Linked DNA regions of Homo sapiens. Changing the gene in region 2 together with the main gene of any one other region gives a genetic interaction. Each region holds a gene or a part of one and is shown on either strand. Other genes may lie near its edges.

Region 1 (3,500 bases), on a different chromosome or scaffold from region 2:
CACCCAGGCTGGAGTGCAGTAGAGTGAGCATAGCTCACTGCAGCCTGGAAATGCTGAGCTCCAGGGATCCTCATGCCTTAGCTTCCTGAGCAAGTGGGACCATAGGCATGCACCGCCATGCCTGGCTAACTTTAAAAATGTTTTCAGAGACAGGGTATTGCTCTGTGTTGCCCAGGCTGGTCTTAAACTCCTGGCCTCAATTGATCCTCCTGCCTCAGCCTCTGAAAGTGCTGAGGTTATAGGCATGAGCCACTGCACCCAGCTTGATATTATGTTTTAAAAGTACAGGGTCAACAGTTGAGGAAAGAGCACTGAGTATATACTACCTGGCTAGGTCTCAGGTTTGCCAGTTGCTAAATATTTTGGCATTTATACAGTCTCTTTGAGGGCTTGGCTTTCCTATTTTTAAAGTGGTAATCTACCTCACAGAATTTTTCTAAACTTAATAAAGAGCTGTTTATGAAAGACTGTATGCACTGTATAATTGTAAGATATTCAATTATAAGATTTTATAAGAATATATAATTCAATAATTGATGTAATTTGATATAATTATAAGATATTCAACTACATTGAAGATACTACTGCTGTCTTCAAGTGCAGTTGTTAACTATACTTCTCTGTATTTTGCTGTCATTTATTAGCAGGCAGATATAATACGTAATACATAATATAATACATAATATATTATATAATACATAATATAATATAATACGTAATACATATATAATACATAATACATTCAGTATACTTAATGTGTATAATACAGTTCTGAGTATGTGTTAGAAACCAGGATGCTGCTTATTTGATTCTATAATAACTCACCTATGACATGCCACACATACATGTAACTGAGCTGGGTTTTGAGTAGTTAGTTGGAGAGTTTTTTAATTGAGAAGTTTAATTCAGAAGTTTGTTTTTGTTGCCTCTGATTTAACATTTTATATTTCTTTTGAAAAATTTCCAACAGAGCTCAAATGATACTTTTCCCACAGCAATGCACATTGCTGCTGCAATAGAAGTTCATGAAGTACTGTTACCAGGACTACAGAAGTTACATGATGCTCTTGATGCAAAATCCAAAGAGTTTGCACAGATCATCAAGATTGGACGTACTCATACTCAGGATGCTGTTCCACTTACTCTTGGGCAGGTATAGGAGTTTGACTAATTTGATTCAATTTAGAGCTTGGTACAAATGGCCAATGTGTCATCCTTGAAATCTGACTAGCTTAAAAGGCCAAATTTGTAACCGGAAACTTCAGTGACAGAGGTTGTTCTGTTCAACCAATCAGTAATTTTCATTGACATCCACTTAGAAGAAAAGCAGAGTATACTGGCTATAAGTCAGATTCAGTCAGACTGCTCGGGTTCAAATCTTAGCTTTGCTGTGTACAAGCTATGGGACCATAGGAAAGTCATTTAGCCTTTCTGTGCCTCAGTTTTCTGAGCTACAAAATGAGGAAAATAATTTCCCTTTCATAGGATAGTTGTGAAGCTCTAGTAAGTTGATTTATGTAGAGTGCTTAGAAGCATGCCTGGCACACAGTAAGTACCCATTCATGTTAGCTACCATCATCACCACCGTCATCGCTGTCATCTCCATCAGTATCATCATGGTTTTTCTTTTGTCTTTCTTACCTAAATTAGTAGGTTATTTAAAATTTAATCTCAAAGTGATTAAATAAGGTAGATCTTTTTAAGATGGATCTGGCCGCATGTGAAGGAGATACTACTCTCTTCTCCAAGATATTAGAAAGTATTTTCATGTTTCTTTTTCAATGCCTTAAGGAATATCTAATAGTATACATTGTGAAGGAAATGTAAGGAAATACAGGGAATGACTTTTGTCTTAGTAAACTCACACTCCAATTGGGGTAGCTTAATTTCCTTATGGAAGGAATGAGGAAAACTTGAAATGAGTAATTGAAAAACAAATGATGGGACTAAATTGAACTCACTGGATTGAGTTGCTTCTTAAGGCTGTGTCTCATTTCTCTTTGCATCATTAGTACTTAGGACCATGCATAATTTCTAAGGAGGAACAGTATGTATGTTTTGAAACTTTTGAATATTTCTCAAGTTTCTAATTTTAACCTTTTTTTGGTGTTGAAAACTACAATACTAAATACCATTTGGGCCATGACTCAGCCTCCTGTGTAAAATCATCATTCTTCCTGTTAAGACAGAAAATTACATTTTTCTGTTTGACTTTATCAGAAGCATTTATACTTGCTTTTATTGGGATTGTCTTTTGAGTTCGTGCATTGTTCCCTGTCAAAGTGTATTTTATAAGTGAATCTATCTAGTGTGTTTGTGTGTGTGTGTATACATACAGTCATGTGTTGCTTAGCAATGGGGGTATGTTCTGAAAAATGCATCCTTAGGCAATTTCATAGTTATGTGAACATCACAGAGTATACTCACACAAACCTAGATGGTATAGCCTTCTATACACCTAGGCTATATGGCATAGCCTTTTCCTCCTAGGCTACAAATCTGTGCAGCATGTTACTGCATTGGATACAATAGGCAATCGTAACACAATGGTAAGTATTTGTGTATCTAAACATATCTAAATGTAGAAAAGGTACAGTAAAAATACGGTTTTATAATCTTAGGGTCCCACTGTTTATGTGATCTTTCGTTGGCTGAAACATCATTATGTGGTGCGTGACTGTATATGAGTGATGTTATATCAGATGCATCAGGTCTACCTATAATGAGTTATATCTTTTGAAATGTTTTCTTTAGAACAGTATGGCATCCTGTCACTTATGGTTTTTTAGTGTTTTCAGGCAGGAAAAAAGGATAGATTTAGTGTAACCATGTATCTTGGTTTGTCCAGTTAACTCCCAGTGTATGCCTTTTGTTTCTGCATGACTATTAATAGAGCCCTTTCTGTGTTCAAAACATAAATTCTGTGGTTGCTTTAATTAAGGCATGTCAAAATTTGGAACCAGTGTTGACATTGGCACATTGATGCTATGATCTGACTCTACCGTTACCTCCTATTCTTTTTGGAAGGTCCTTCAATGCAAACTGTTACCTTCCTGTGCTATTCAGTGAGTCATTAGCTTCCCAAGTCTCTGTAGAATGTCTTCATATTTCCTGGTAGGTTTATACACTGAAATTGTATGGAGAATATTTCTATGTTTGCATTTTTTTGGGGGAGATGAGTTACTATTTTTTCTTACACCAAAGTTGTCTGAGGCATCCCAAAAAATAAGAAATCACTTCAGTTTCTTTAGTAGACTGCAAGTAAACCAATAATTTAGTGTAGTAAAGTTGTTCTTTTTAAAGTGTATTTCCTGTGCTGTTTTTCTTTGCTTCCTATTAAAAGACTAGATTATAATAAATAGGCTGCATGTTATCAGTGGCATTGTCGTACCTTATGGTTCTATAAACCCTCATCCTTCCCTATACTTTGCTCATCATAAGATTTGAAGTAGTATAAATAAAACTTGATTAGCTTGTAATTTAGTATTCTGAAAGGTATT
Region 2 (3,500 bases):
ATCCTCTCTTCCAAAGATGTCCGACGGCTTTACGATAATGGCTTCCGGAAATGCATCTCTCACTACTTTCTCTCCAACAGCCTAAACAATAACCAAACAAACCTGTTTTGAGTTTAGAGACAAGTGAATAAAGCATCCATTCTTTCCACTATTAAGACATGACTTGTATTTCAAAGGCGATATTTTCCTCCAGATAAAGGTAATCATGTAATTCATAAAACTCAGTTACACAGAACTTTTAAAAAATATAATCCACAAAAATGTCCTGCACCTTACAGATTGGGTTGGGTCTCTTCCAATTTTTTTATTTTAAGGGAAGCTTACATTGAAGAAGGAGAAAAATCAAAGTAGAATTTCTTCAGCCTCCATTTTTCCTTCTATTTACAGATTCTCTGGTTTGTGTCAACCATCTAGCAGCCTGTTAGAAAAAGGACAGTATGGTGGCAGCAGGCTGCAATAATGGAAGTGTCACCAGTACCTACATATCCAAAGGAGGTTGGGGATAGAGTCACTAATCCTCCTAATCTCAATTGCTGTACCATCCTTACTTGTTATCATCTACTAGCCTCCTAGGCAAGTCTTCTTGTTCGATGAAGATATCAGCACCTAATTCAGTCTTCCTTTCTACTTCCACCACCACTGGAGGTGACATGATGTCCAAGTGGGCTTGGACTTCTCAGGTTCTTGAGCTGCTCAACTCCAACGACCTCCTCTTCCTTCCACCTCTACCACTCTTAACTTGGTTACACCACCTACTGTATCAACATCTGGAATTGCTCTTCTTCTGAGGTATTAAATGAAGACATCCTGCTCTTGGATGTCCATTTCCTACAATTTCCAGCCTGCTTGTTCTTTGTTCATCTGCTCCTGGGATACCTGTTTCTCAACCTTCTCAAGAACTCTAGTGCACTGATTCTGCTTCCCCTGTATCAACTCTTCCGACTGTTCCTGTCCTTCCCTCTGAATTCCAGATTAGGTTCCATAGACCATCTTCTCATCACTCTCTTGCCAATATTGTAAACTACCTTGTCCCTTTGTCCTTTACTCTAGCCACCAGGCAAAATTCTAATCCTAGAAGAACTCCATTGGCCTCCCTTGGGCCATGCACTCCCACTGTCTTGAGCAGCTGGCAGGAAAATAAATCAATAAAAACCATGAATTGGTACCACTATAAATTCATGCCTCCAATTTTAACCAGGCCCTCAACATTTCCCAAAAACCGTGTTTTCCTCTAATTAACTTACTTTCCCATGAGACAATTTGAAACATTTTCTACTGTATTCAAATTTCAGACATCCCTTTCTTTTCTCTTCCTTCCAGTAAATGACTCTGCCTTCTAATAAAAGAGAAAATGTAAGACAGTAGAGGAAAAACCACCTCAAGTTCTCACCACTAAATCTACAAACCCCGGTATATAAAGCACAATTTTCTCCTCCTCTCTTACCTGATGGGAGGAACAGTGCCACTTTCAATGCTTTAGAGCTCATGTCCTTTCACTTTTTCAGGAACCTGTCCAATTTACTCTCTCTTCCACATCCTCAGCCTCACTCTTTTTACCAGCATCTCCCTACCAGCATGTAAACAATGTAGATCCTCTACCTTAAAAAAAAACATACCAACTCCACATCCCCCTCCAGCTTCTATCCTCTCAGTCTTTCATCTTCCTCTTGCCAGTCAAGCTACCTGAAAATGTACCTACCCTTACCATTCCCACTTCCTCAGTTCCAACTCACTCTTCACGCACCCGCATTCTGGATTCTGCTCCAACCACTGCACTCAATCTATTCTTGATAAGATCACCAATGACCTCCATGTCAGTAGATCCAAGGAGACTTTACAGTTAACATTTGCTTGACTTCTCAATGGCATTCATAAGTATTCACTTCCTCCTGTGAGACTGTCTGGCCATGGCTTCCCTAGCACTGTACTCTCCTGGTTTCCCTTCCGCCTTATCATGTCCTGCTTAGTCTTTCTGTTTGATTGGTTTGGGTTTCTGCAGGTGCCTCCTTCTCTACCAGATTACTAACCATTGGTATGTTCTGGGCCCAATCTGAAACTACCTTCTCAATCTTCAGCCATCTTATCCTCTCTCATCACTTAAATTAACAACAAATGCTGGTAACTCCCACATTTCTGTCTCCAACCCAGACCTCTCTTCTGACCTCCAGGATCAGAAACCCTATATACCAGTTACTTGGAAGATTGACACACATCTGAAATGCACCTGAAACGTGAGTCCAAAACTCAATCATCTTCCATTCTCTCAAGTAAAATAGTGCTCCTCAATCTTTGCTGCACTCAGAATTACCTAGACAGAGTTAAAAAATACTGGTGCTGAAGTTGCAACCCCAGAAATTGTTTTAATTGGTCTGGAGCGCAGCCTAGGCATCAGAATTTTTAAAAGCTCCCTCAGTGGTTTTAATGTGCAACTAAGGCTAAGACTCACTGCCCTACAGCCTAGTCCCTCCCAAGCATTTCCCATCTTATTCAACAGTACTATCATCTACCCAGTGGCTTCAGCCAGAGGGCTGGACATCTTTGACTCTTCTCTCTTCCTCACCATTGACACCTCCCATTCCCTTCCAGTCATGAAATTCTGATGATTTTATGAATGTTTGGGCAGAGGCAGGCACAAGCATTCTCTCTCTTATTTTCTCTCTATTTACTACCGTAGCCACAGTGCTTAACACAATATGTGACACACAGTAGGTGCTTAATGAATAGTTTATCCAGTAAACTAATGTGGTGAGTCAAAAACTTGGAACCATTATCAAGGAACTCTCTTGTCCTTATCAGTATGACTCCAAACAGGCTTCCATATGGCAGAATCCAAATGTTAAGCGCACGGCCAGACACTGATATCCCTTCTGCGTCCCTGATAATGAACACGTTTCACTTAGGCTACAGACTGACTCCAAACTACAGTGGTCAGTCTCTAGGTATGGCATTTCTGGGAGTAAAAGGAGCATAAGCACTGTGTGAATAGGCATCTTCCCTGGCAAATATTAATCCCTGTCATTCTGAGCCTTCACATTGCCCCTTTAAGAGTGGCACAAAACCACTGCAGTGCAAGGGGTGAGAAAGAAAGATGGTCCTTTAACCATGGTAGATGACACAGGTATGATTCCTTTGGCAGAAATCTGTGATGGTTTCTGTATAATTCAATGATGCCCCAAAGAAACTTTAAGTATCTGAATGCCAACAGTAACATGGTCTAGCCAACTCCGAAGCCCCATAGCACAGTTCCCTGCAAACAGAAGGCAATCAATCAAAACGTCAAAACATCACACACACCCCTAGTTCTGGATGCAGGGAATCAGAAAACCTTTTAATTCTACATATGTCTGTGATAAACCCTTCTCACTGAAATCATGTTTCAAATGGCCCAAGAAACTCTGGCTCTGTGAACCACTTCCCAGATCAATTTGTTACTTACCTTATTTCTCAAATATCTAGAAGAGCTTTTAATATTCGCATTCAGATGTGAAACATGAATGAAT
Region 3 (3,500 bases), on a different chromosome or scaffold from region 2:
TGTTGCATTCGCTTTATCATCATCAACGCCAACATACAATGGCTCCTTTTTCAGAGAAATCCTTGCCAGGTCTTCAACTTTTCGAGTTTGGGTGGCAGAAAAGAGCATAGTCTGTCTACGTGCTGAAACAGATACATATAAAAATAACCCCAATCTTTTAGGGAATCTTTACAATTGCCTCACAACTACAAATATTCTAGGTAGAGATATCAGAAATGGGAGATATGATGTTTCTACAGAATCTACAAATATTACAAAAGGTAAAAAGGGTATATCATGAAACACTAGGTCTATAAATTTGAGGACTTAGATGAAATGGACAAACTCCTTTGAAGACAAACAACTGAAGAAAATAGGAAAACTTTAAATAGCCTTATATCTACTAAAGAAATTTTAGTTATAACCTTCATGTAAAGAAAATTCCAGGCCCAAATGGATTCCATTGGTGAATTCTACTGAACATTTAAGAAAAAAACATCAATTATTCACAAACTCTCCAATAAATTAAAAAGAGGGCTTACATGTCAACTCATTCTTCGAAGTCAGTCATTACACTATACAAAAACCTGACATGACATGACAAGAAAACTATGGACCAATACAATTCGTGAGCACATATACAAAATTTGAAATAGAATTTTAGTAAAGTGAATTCAGCAATATATAAAAAGGATAATGGCTCATGTTTATTCTAGAAATGGATCAGGTTTATTCTAGAAATGCAGGTTGGTTCAACATTTGAAAAATCAACCAATACAATTCACTATGTTAACTAAAGAAAAAACATGATTATTTCAGCAGACAGAAAAAAAACATTTGACCATCTATTTCTGATTAAAAATCCTCAGCAAACTAGGAACAGAAGGGATCTTCCTCAATCTGATAAAAGGCATCTATATAAAACCTGCAGCTAACTTCATATGTAGTTAATGGTAAAAGACTGAATGCTTTCCCCTAAGATCAGAACCAAGATAAGGATGTCTGCTCTCACCACTTCTATTCAGCACCATACTGGAGGTTCTGGCCAGGGCAATCAGGCAGGAAAAAAAAATTAAATAAAGAGGTGAAACTGTCTTTATCTGCACATGATTGCCTATATAGAAAATCCAAAAGGCTACAGTCATCTGGAAAGTCATACTGAATAATCATTCGGTACAGGATTAACTGTCTTGCTAGATACAAGATCAATATAAAATTCAACTGTGTGTGCATATATATGTGTGTATATGTGTGTGTGTATATATGTATATATTAAAGCAACGAGCAATTGGAACTTGAAATTTTAATGAAACACTCAGAGATAAATCTGACAAAAGATGTGAATAAACCTGTATCCCGAACCCCCCTAAATATGATAGAGAAAATATCGAATACATGGAGATATACCTTATTATGGGTTACATGACTCAATACTGTCTTCCTCCAATAATCTCTATTCAATAAAATCTCAGTCAAGATCTGAGACTTTTTTGGAGGGAAGGGGGAGAAACTGACAAACCAATTCTAAAATTTATATAGAAAAGCAAAGGACAAGAATACCACAACTTTAAAAGAGAACAAACTTGGGGCTAACATTACCTGATGGTCAAGACTTAATAGGAGGAACTGGAACTTTCATACACTGCTCATAGGAATGTTAAATGGTACAGCCGCTTTGGAAAACATCTGGCAGTTTTTTAAAAAGTTAAACATACACTAAACATATACCAACTAGGACACTCCTAGGTTTACTTAAGAGAAAAGGAGATATATGCCTCTACAAAGAGTTGTAGATGACTGTTCACAGCAACTTTATTTCCAGAAAATGCAACCTAATCTAGCAGCAGAAAACAGATCAATACTCACCTGGGGACAAGGTATACGTGTAAGGAGGGGTGGGAGGGAGAAATTGAAAAGGGGCAGGAGGAAACCTTTGACTGTGATGGACATGTTCATTTTCTTGATTGCAGCGATGATGTCACAGTGGTAAACAAATCAAAGAACATCAAATTGTACATTATAAATGGGTAGATATAATTATACTTTGACAAAGCTTTTAAAAATAAATTATATAATGAAGGAAACCATGGTCTTAGTTATAACCAGTTCATAATGTTGCAAGTACTATAACCAAGGTATGTACAAGTAAGGCAAAAAATCTGCGGCTTCTTGGGGGATGTTAGATGAGGTAAGAATGGGCAAGAGGTGGAGGACAGGACCTATGTGAAGACTGCTTAACGTGCCTTATAACTTCTAAAACAGCAAAACTATTATATCAAGTTATAATACATTTGATGCTTGTATTCCAAATTACCTTTCGGGTTAATTGGCACAACTACCTCACTTGGCTATGGTAAAGTTCTGGCATTAGTACAGTTTTTCTATAGGAACAACTCTTATCTACCTCCAACAGATACTTTGCAAACCAAATGCAGATGCTACCTACTTACTTGGCAAAAGTTTAATAATTTGCTTTAATTCCTCTTCAAACCCCACATCCAAGATACGATCAGCTTCATCAATAACCAGACACTGCAGGTTTTTATACATAAATCCTGGGGTATTCTAACAAAACAAAGGACAAAGAACAACCATTAGTTGTCAGTTTATGTTTCATACAAGACAATGAGACAAGCACTACATCTCTTACCTGCATATGGTCCAGCAGACGGCCTGGTGTGGCCACAATGATGTTGATCCCATTACCAAGTTTCTGTGCTTCAGCAGATCTGTTACTGCCACCCATTATCAAGCCATAGGTATGCACGTGGTGAGTCATCAGCTCCTTAAGAACACCAAAGGTTTGCATGGCTAGTTCTCTAGTAGGTGAGAGAATAAGGACTCCTGTTCCTAAAAATGATATATGGTAGAAGTCTAAATGTGGCTGTCACCACTGAGTCCGTAACAGCTACAATAAACCTCTAGTGAAATAATGGCAGAAACAAGCAGATGAACGCTTACCATTCCTGGGCATGAACCTTAACTTAACAATGAGTTCAACTGCAGGGATGAGAAAAGCCAGGGTTTTACCACTGCCTGTTTTTGCAGCTGCTAGAAGATCCCTAAATATTAAAAAGGGAAAGGAGAAAGACATTTAGCCTACTCATTTACGACGTACTACATACACACACCTTAGGCACTACGGCTAGAACATGAACAAGAAACGTCTACAGTGCTGAAATTGATCACCTGGGTTATATACTGAAATCATAAGTCAGAACTGTGCTACAACAGAAGCAGAACACCTTTCGAACACTTTCCTTCAAACATCAGTAATTAACTTAAAGCCTTTAATGTATGCTGGATACATGACCCAACATATAGTACAAAATCAACAGAATATACTGGTATGTTCTTTATCATCTACTAGTTCTAAAAATAGATGCCAATATCTAAGCTTCAATGTTAATCATACCTGCCTTCCAGAAGTGGTCTGATACTTTTATGCTGAATTTCAGTCATGTTTGTAAAACCCATTTCTTTTATTGCCTTCAGAGTGTTTTCATTGACAAGATTACATA

Evidence for each region.
Region 1: changes in NDUFA9 (region 2) and FH together harm fitness less than expected from each alone (positive genetic interaction), as found in Homo sapiens cells (one large-scale study listed by BioGRID).
Region 3: changes in NDUFA9 (region 2) and DDX18 together harm fitness more than expected from each alone (negative genetic interaction), as found in Homo sapiens cells (one large-scale study listed by BioGRID).

Annotation. Positions count from the first base shown.
Region 1 is NC_000001.11:241,506,256-241,509,755, reverse strand, and holds part of FH (fumarate hydratase, mitochondrial), read left to right. Parts: intron 1-970; coding exon 971-1,153; intron 1,154-3,500. UniProt on the Homo sapiens protein: Catalyzes the reversible stereospecific interconversion of fumarate to L-malate. Experiments in other species have demonstrated that specific isoforms of this protein act in defined pathways and favor one direction over the other.
Region 2 is NC_000012.12:4,659,114-4,662,613, reverse strand, and holds part of NDUFA9 (NADH dehydrogenase [ubiquinone] 1 alpha subcomplex subunit 9, mitochondrial precursor), read right to left. Parts: coding exon 3,437-3,500; intron 82-3,436; coding exon 1-81. UniProt on the Homo sapiens protein: Accessory subunit of the mitochondrial membrane respiratory chain NADH dehydrogenase (Complex I), that is believed not to be involved in catalysis. Required for proper complex I assembly.
Region 3 is NC_000002.12:117,821,191-117,824,690, reverse strand, and holds part of DDX18 (ATP-dependent RNA helicase DDX18), read right to left. Parts: coding exon 3,395-3,500; intron 3,042-3,394; coding exon 2,941-3,041; intron 2,830-2,940; coding exon 2,630-2,829; intron 2,545-2,629; coding exon 2,430-2,544; intron 123-2,429; coding exon 1-122. UniProt on the Homo sapiens protein: ATP-dependent RNA helicase that plays a role in the regulation of R-loop homeostasis in both endogenous R-loop-prone regions and at sites of DNA damage.